Linked DNA regions of Homo sapiens. The protein of the gene in region 2 interacts with the protein of the main gene of each other region in a pairwise test. Each region holds a gene or a part of one and is shown on either strand. Other genes may lie near its edges.

The links.
Region 1: the proteins of WIF1 (region 2) and ICOS interact in a two-hybrid assay, tested with the Homo sapiens proteins (one large-scale study listed by BioGRID and IntAct).

Annotation. Positions count from the first base shown.
Region 1 is NC_000002.12:203,957,133-203,960,787, forward strand, and holds part of ICOS (inducible T-cell costimulator precursor), read left to right. Parts: intron 1-666; coding exon 667-751; intron 752-838; exon of another isoform or gene 839-951; intron 952-2,453; coding exon 2,454-2,467; 3' UTR 2,468-3,655. UniProt on the Homo sapiens protein: Stimulatory receptor expressed in activated or antigen-experienced T-cells that plays an important role in the immune response.
Region 2 is NC_000012.12:65,065,785-65,069,439, reverse strand, and holds part of WIF1 (wnt inhibitory factor 1 precursor), read left to right. Parts: intron 1-535; coding exon 536-676; intron 677-1,649; coding exon 1,650-1,745; intron 1,746-2,703; coding exon 2,704-2,799; intron 2,800-3,655. UniProt on the Homo sapiens protein: Binds to WNT proteins and inhibits their activities. May be involved in mesoderm segmentation.

The sequences.
Region 1 (3,655 bases), on a different chromosome or scaffold from region 2:
TGAATCCAAGGTTCCTGAGAGGCAGGGCAGAGATGAAACAATTAGTTATAAGTTTTGCTTAGCTGGTAAGTTAAAAACAGTCAGCAAGAAAGCCTTCTAAGGTGTCAATTGTAGCTGAGAAGGAAATTGACAACTTTTTTACATGGTAGGTTATTAGACTCCTTGCTTTTAAAGAAAACCACTGAGGAGCTATTTAGAAAGATAAACAACAATGACAACAACAAAAATCTCCCTGTGCTGGGGGATATTCTTTTTGGTCTCTTGCATTACAGGTTCTCAATCAAAGAACTGACACCACTCTGCATATTACGCGAGTATGCTAGTACTCAAGTATATCCACAGTGTGGTCATTGGCCAGTGTATATCTGTGGGAGAGTGGAATTTGGAAAGAGACATAAAGAAGGAAGAGAATGAGATAGCGCCCATGGTCTAAGTCTGCTGGGAAAGAAACAATAAAGGCAAAAACGAGGAAGAAAGTTCAGTAGAAAGCTCTTTTTATGTAAAGCCCTTTTCATATTGTTTTTCTACTTAGCCTAAAGCCAGGAACCTAAGTCACATTATCATGTTTTTGTCACATACCACTTCAACAAAGAATAGAAAACAGTCAAAAAACAAAGAGATGGAGAAGAAAAGATGACCAAGCATGTTTCTGGCTTTTTCTTTCAGAAGTATTCATCCAGTGTGCACGACCCTAACGGTGAATACATGTTCATGAGAGCAGTGAACACAGCCAAAAAATCTAGACTCACAGGTATGACTCCATTTGGGGGTTTGGGAAGGGAAGAGGTTTCTTCACAGTAAGCCTGGAATGTTAATTTTTTTTTTTTTAATTTTAAAGGAAAGGAAAACATCTCCAAGGCCTAATTCTAGAATTTTCTGTGAAAATCTGGATTTCTCACTTTTAACTAGATTTATATTTTCTGCAGTATATTGAAAACAAACAAGCAATAGGTTTGTAAGCCACTATTGAAACTAAACACACAAACAGCTCATAAACCACCATAGTATCAAGGCAATTTTCCCATTGATGTTTCAAAAGTTGGGATGATTCTAAGTGTTTTTTGTTGAAGGGTTCATTCAGTCATTCAATGAGCGTTTATTGAGCATCAGTTAAGTGTGAGTTACTGAGTGAGGCACTCTGGGGAATTTGGACAGATATATGCTAATTTTGGACTGAGATTAGGAAGAGAGATCTGTGCTGGTACTGCTAGAGGGAAGAAGGAGAAATTGATGAAGATATCTGGTTATTTTGAGGTAAAGAGTGTGCAAGTTTAGAGAACTTGGATGGCTTTAGAAGTCTCAGTAACATGGAAATTTGACCTTTTCTGTTAAGAGTCAGAAAACTGAAAGTTGCCAAGTTTGAGGAGCACCCAGAAAGTTTGAAGCTTCCATTGTGGAAAATTCATGTCTTATGCCCTTGAGGTTCGAATGATGTGCGATGTGTAATGAGACAGAAGCCACTGCATTTTTCCACCCCTCAGTGGCTACAGATTATCTAAAGGGGACACACATAGCTTGCGTTGTCATGGAATTATAGCATGGGATGGGAGCTAAAAAGGATCCTTGAGTTCACATTTCATGTTTTAGATGACAGAAATTGATGCTCAAAGTGTTCAGTGACTCTTTTGGTTCCCTAGACAGTTAATACCTAGCTTTGACACTTGCAAAGAGCTTATGTTTCATTACTTTGCTGTTTAAAAAATATATGATCTCTCAATCTCTTTGCTTAATGTGTTCTGGCTGTTTGGATCCCCACAAGCAGAACCTGACATAAGGACTTGGGTGCAAGTAGTTTATTTGGGAGGTGATCCCAGGAAGAAGGGGTGAGGGGGCAGGGAGAGTGAGACAGCCAACAAGGAGAAGCAAATGAAGGGCGCATTATTATCAAGGTCTCAGCTCCAGGCCACAGAGGCCTGACTTCATTGGACCTCTGAGAAGTGTACAGATGCCTCCCAGAATCATTCTCTTGAAGGATGGCAACCACTGGCTCCATCCTCACTGATTTGGGGTTGCCTGCGGAGGGCATTAGCTTTCCCTCATCTCTGAGCTGTGCCTCTACTTGGGATGAGCCTACTTGGGATGAGTCTTCAGAGAAAGTCTGGAGGCAGAAAAGCAGTGAAATGCAGTGGGGCTGTTGTGCTAGAACAGTCAGCCCATGCAGCGCTTTCTGCCCCAGCAGCAGCTGCAATCAGAGGTGGACAGTTTCAAAGTGATGAGTTTAGATAATGTCTGTTATAGGAGTCGAGAGCTAAACTTCTCTGGAAATGGGGAACTGGTGCTGGGTGTTGAAGCATAAAGATGAGTTTGCATGGTGTGTGTGTGAGTGTGTGTGTGTGTGTGTGTGTGCACGTGTGTGTTTGTGTGTATGAAAGGCAATGGAGAGGGGAAAGCTTCTTGTAGGGAACTGGCACATGGAGAGCATTTAGATAATTTATGCTGAATTTTTGTTACAGATGTGACCCTATAATATGGAACTCTGGCACCCAGGCATGAAGCACGTTGGCCAGTTTTCCTCAACTTGAAGTGCAAGATTCTCTTATTTCCGGGACCACGGAGAGTCTGACTTAACTACATACATCTTCTGCTGGTGTTTTGTTCAATCTGGAAGAATGACTGTATCAGTCAATGGGGATTTTAACAGACTGCCTTGGTACTGCCGAGTCCTCTCAAAACAAACACCCTCTTGCAACCAGCTTTGGAGAAAGCCCAGCTCCTGTGTGCTCACTGGGAGTGGAATCCCTGTCTCCACATCTGCTCCTAGCAGTGCATCAGCCAGTAAAACAAACACATTTACAAGAAAAATGTTTTAAAGATGCCAGGGGTACTGAATCTGCAAAGCAAATGAGCAGCCAAGGACCAGCATCTGTCCGCATTTCACTATCATACTACCTCTTCTTTCTGTAGGGATGAGAATTCCTCTTTTAATCAGTCAAGGGAGATGCTTCAAAGCTGGAGCTATTTTATTTCTGAGATGTTGATGTGAACTGTACATTAGTACATACTCAGTACTCTCCTTCAATTGCTGAACCCCAGTTGACCATTTTACCAAGACTTTAGATGCTTTCTTGTGCCCTCAATTTTCTTTTTAAAAATACTTCTACATGACTGCTTGACAGCCCAACAGCCACTCTCAATAGAGAGCTATGTCTTACATTCTTTCCTCTGCTGCTCAATAGTTTTATATATCTATGCATACATATATACACACATATGTATATAAAATTCATAATGAATATATTTGCCTATATTCTCCCTACAAGAATATTTTTGCTCCAGAAAGACATGTTCTTTTCTCAAATTCAGTTAAAATGGTTTACTTTGTTCAAGTTAGTGGTAGGAAACATTGCCCGGAATTGAAAGCAAATTTATTTTATTATCCTATTTTCTACCATTATCTATGTTTTCATGGTGCTATTAATTACAAGTTTAGTTCTTTTTGTAGATCATATTAAAATTGCAAACAAAATCATCTTTAATGGGCCAGCATTCTCATGGGGTAGAGCAGAATATTCATTTAGCCTGAAAGCTGCAGTTACTATAGGTTGCTGTCAGACTATACCCATGGTGCCTCTGGGCTTGACAGGTCAAAATGGTCCCCATCAGCCTGGAGCAGCCCTCCAGACCTGGGTGGAATTCCAGGGTTGAGAGACTCCCC
Region 2 (3,655 bases):
TTCACATACACATAGTAAACATAAACCAGTGGGGTATTGCTCATCAGACTTTATTTAAGGGATTATGAAATGCTGATTTCTAGCCCTTTTTGGATTATATGGAGGCTGATGAAGATGCCACAAAGTTTCTTCCCCGAATCAACTGCTTTTTATTTATTTTCGTTTGTCTTTCTGTTCTTCCCATGCTACACTGACGTATACATAATTAACCACTTTATGATTCTTCTTTCCATCTTTAATTTCCAGGGAAAATATTTAAGATAGTACAAGTCCAGACTGTGAACAGAATATCACCAATTCCATATTAATGAGGTAAAAATTGGAGTCATTCACTCTTTCTTCACCTGACATGATGCTCAACTTCTGTGGAGCCCAGATGCTCAAAATACAGTTCCTACTCCAGTGGAGATACAAGGAAATCCACAACATGTGAACATTTTTGCTTTGTCCTTTGACTCTTGGTTCCCAAGATTTCTGTAAAACTAGAATCAACTAGATTAACTATTTCTCCACACTTTCTCTTTTTTTCTTTTAGTTGTTCAAGTTGGTTTCCCATGTCTTGGAAAACAGGATGGGGTGGCAGCATTTGAAGTGGATGTGATTGTTATGAATTCTGAAGGCAACACCATTCTCCAAACACCTCAAAATGCTATCTTCTTTAAAACATGTCAACAAGGTAAGCACCGATGGTGATTCAAGAGAAGACATGTTGTAAGGGCTTAGGTGTGATTTGGACCAAATATTTATATCTATACACACACACACACACACACACACACACACACACACATGGTTTTTTGGATGATGGCTCTATAACTACAGCAACGGAAGGAGGAGATGATCAGCACAGGATTTAGCAACAGTACTAAGATAGACTTCCTCTGACCTTGACCCCACTTTTAATATTAGGAATAGGAAACGTTTCAAAACACCTTTTCTTCCTCCCTCTCCACTCCTCCAACACAGTTGTTGGGAGTCCCAGTGTATCTCACCCGTGGTCATGAATTTCCCCCTTTCTTGCTCTGTTTGCTCAAGGCAAGGTGGCTCATAATTACCAGCACTTCCCACTTGTCCCAAAGGCAACACTAATATAACCTCTAATGAATATCCACGGAGGACAGACTGCCACCTCATGCCAGTGATCCCTACCAGGTCAAGGCCTCACTCAATACCTCCCCACCACACCCCAGATGCCCATTTAACTATAAAGGCCTGGCTCCTTTCACATCCCTATACAAGCTTTTCTAGCTCAGAATTTAAGCTCTGGAGCATTTCAGTGCTCTAAAGATGTACCCATAAGTCATCTTACCCTCTGAAAGGGGAAAGGCAATACCATTCATTCAATTGCAGTGGGAATTTAACAAGGTACAGTAGATCCATAGGAGGAGATGAAGGCAGAATAAAATTTGCCTTACCTTCTTCCAAGAGCCCCCTACTGTTGGAAATAAGGGAGGCAAAATCTTACTCTGCAGCAGATTTAGTGAAATCCAAGTGATATCGAGGGAATGAGTTGGAAGTACTGGTATTTGATCAATTATGATTAATTGGTGGGCTAGAACAGAAATGAACACTACTGTCTCACACTGGCTGTGATTCACCCAACATGATTTCAAGGGTGTCCATATAAGCTTTGTTTCTCTCTGCTGAAGCTGAGTGCCCAGGCGGGTGCCGAAATGGAGGCTTTTGTAATGAAAGACGCATCTGCGAGTGTCCTGATGGGTTCCACGGACCTCACTGTGAGAAAGGTAAGACATGGAGCCGATTTCCCTTGCTCCCTTCCTAATGAACATGGATGTCGTGCAGGAGCCCCATGTGTATTGTGTATTTTTAACACCTGAAATTATTTTCCTGGTCACAGGGGCAGAAAATTTTGGCACAATGCCATCACTTTCTGTGGCCATTCCTGGCCATCTCCCCCAACTCATCCCGCTTCAGAAATATAGCCACTGTACTTTGGCATAATCTTATGAAAATTTTGAGGTTTTTTTCCTCCTCTTAAGTTGGATTTAAAAAGCTAGTATCACCACTGATCTGAAATTGTTCCAGTTGAAAGTAGCTTGATTCACAACTAAGAGTATATCTAAGTTATGAAGTTATGATAAGGCAAAAAAGTGGATGAATTTGTGTAGTAAGTACATCAATTTCAGGGAAATTAATTTTTAAAAATAAATGAAAAAAGACATAAGCAAGGAAATGAATATTAATCATAAGATGTTTAAATACTAAGAGCTTATCTGACTACAGTAAGCAAAATATTTTTCATCTTCAAGAAATAAGAATATCCTGTGAGAGACAGTTAAAAAATAATTTTAAAATAAGTAAGAAAGAATAATATTTTCTTATTTTTCTTCTTTGCATTTATGTTGGAATTAGAAGATTAAGCAAATGGGGCAAAGTGAAAATATTTAACAGTTTTAAGAAGACCACATCTTAGTCAAAATGATTCTGGGGAAAATTTATTCAAGTATTCAAATGGAACCAATCCAAAAGTCATCTCTAAGAAATTGGCTGAGAAATTGAAAAACAGCCTAATTTATACCACAAAAATAATATTAATATAGCAAACTTGTATCTCTGAAGAGTAATCATTTTAGAGTCAACCACAAAGCTTGAAAATGTAGACCTGTTGTATTATTGACATTTCAAAATGGTCCTGCTCCAAAATACCATTTGGCCTTAATCAGGGTTCTCTCTCCCTATAAGCCCTTTGTACCCCACGATGTATGAATGGTGGACTTTGTGTGACTCCTGGTTTCTGCATCTGCCCACCTGGATTCTATGGAGTGAACTGTGACAAAGGTAACAGTTTCTTTTTAAGAAGAAAGTTATTTTTACTTTTAAAATGTTTGATTAGAATAAGTTACTTTATATGTCCTCACTCTTCATAACAGCTCTGAGAATGTATGGCTTAGGGTAAAGATGGCTGCTATAGTAACTGAAATCCCAATTTTAGTGTAGCATAATAGCAAAAGTTTATTTTCATTCACAGAATGCTCCAGTGCATTTTGCCTGGTCAGTGGGCAGGGCAGCTCTTCTCCATGCAGTGACTCAGGAGCCCAGGCACCATCTATCTGTGGTCCTGCCTAGAGCTTTGGAACTCTCTAGATCCAGCCAATAGGCAGAGAAGGATTGAAGTAAGCACTGCTAAAAATAAATTAATTAATTAAAAAATTTAAAAGCCCTGGCCCAGAATTTACCCACAAAACTTCCACACCTATTCCATAGGTAGGAATTAGCCTCATGGTCCTACCTGGTTTCAGGCAGAAGAAATGTTGCCCCTGGCTGGACAGTGGTCTCCCACTGACATCTCATATTACATAACGGGAGTGCAAATTTTTGTGAACAATTAGCTGGTCTTGCCACATGGAATTTTAGTATGTCCTAAATTGGTTTTGTGGGTGAGCTTCTAAGGCTAAAATTAAACAACCTGCTCTACATTGCCTAACCTAGAAGTTTACTGACTCCCGATTCAATACTCTGCTCACAAATCACATCCCAGAGAGATTAGGTTCTTCCTTCTTAACATTGCAGCAACACAGCCAGATTTTACTCTTAGTAAGTGAATTCAAACTTGGCCCTAAAATTGCTGAACGATTCATACTCTTTACAAGAGACTTGTTTATTTTGCCCAGTTCACATCTTTTAAGTGGAAAAA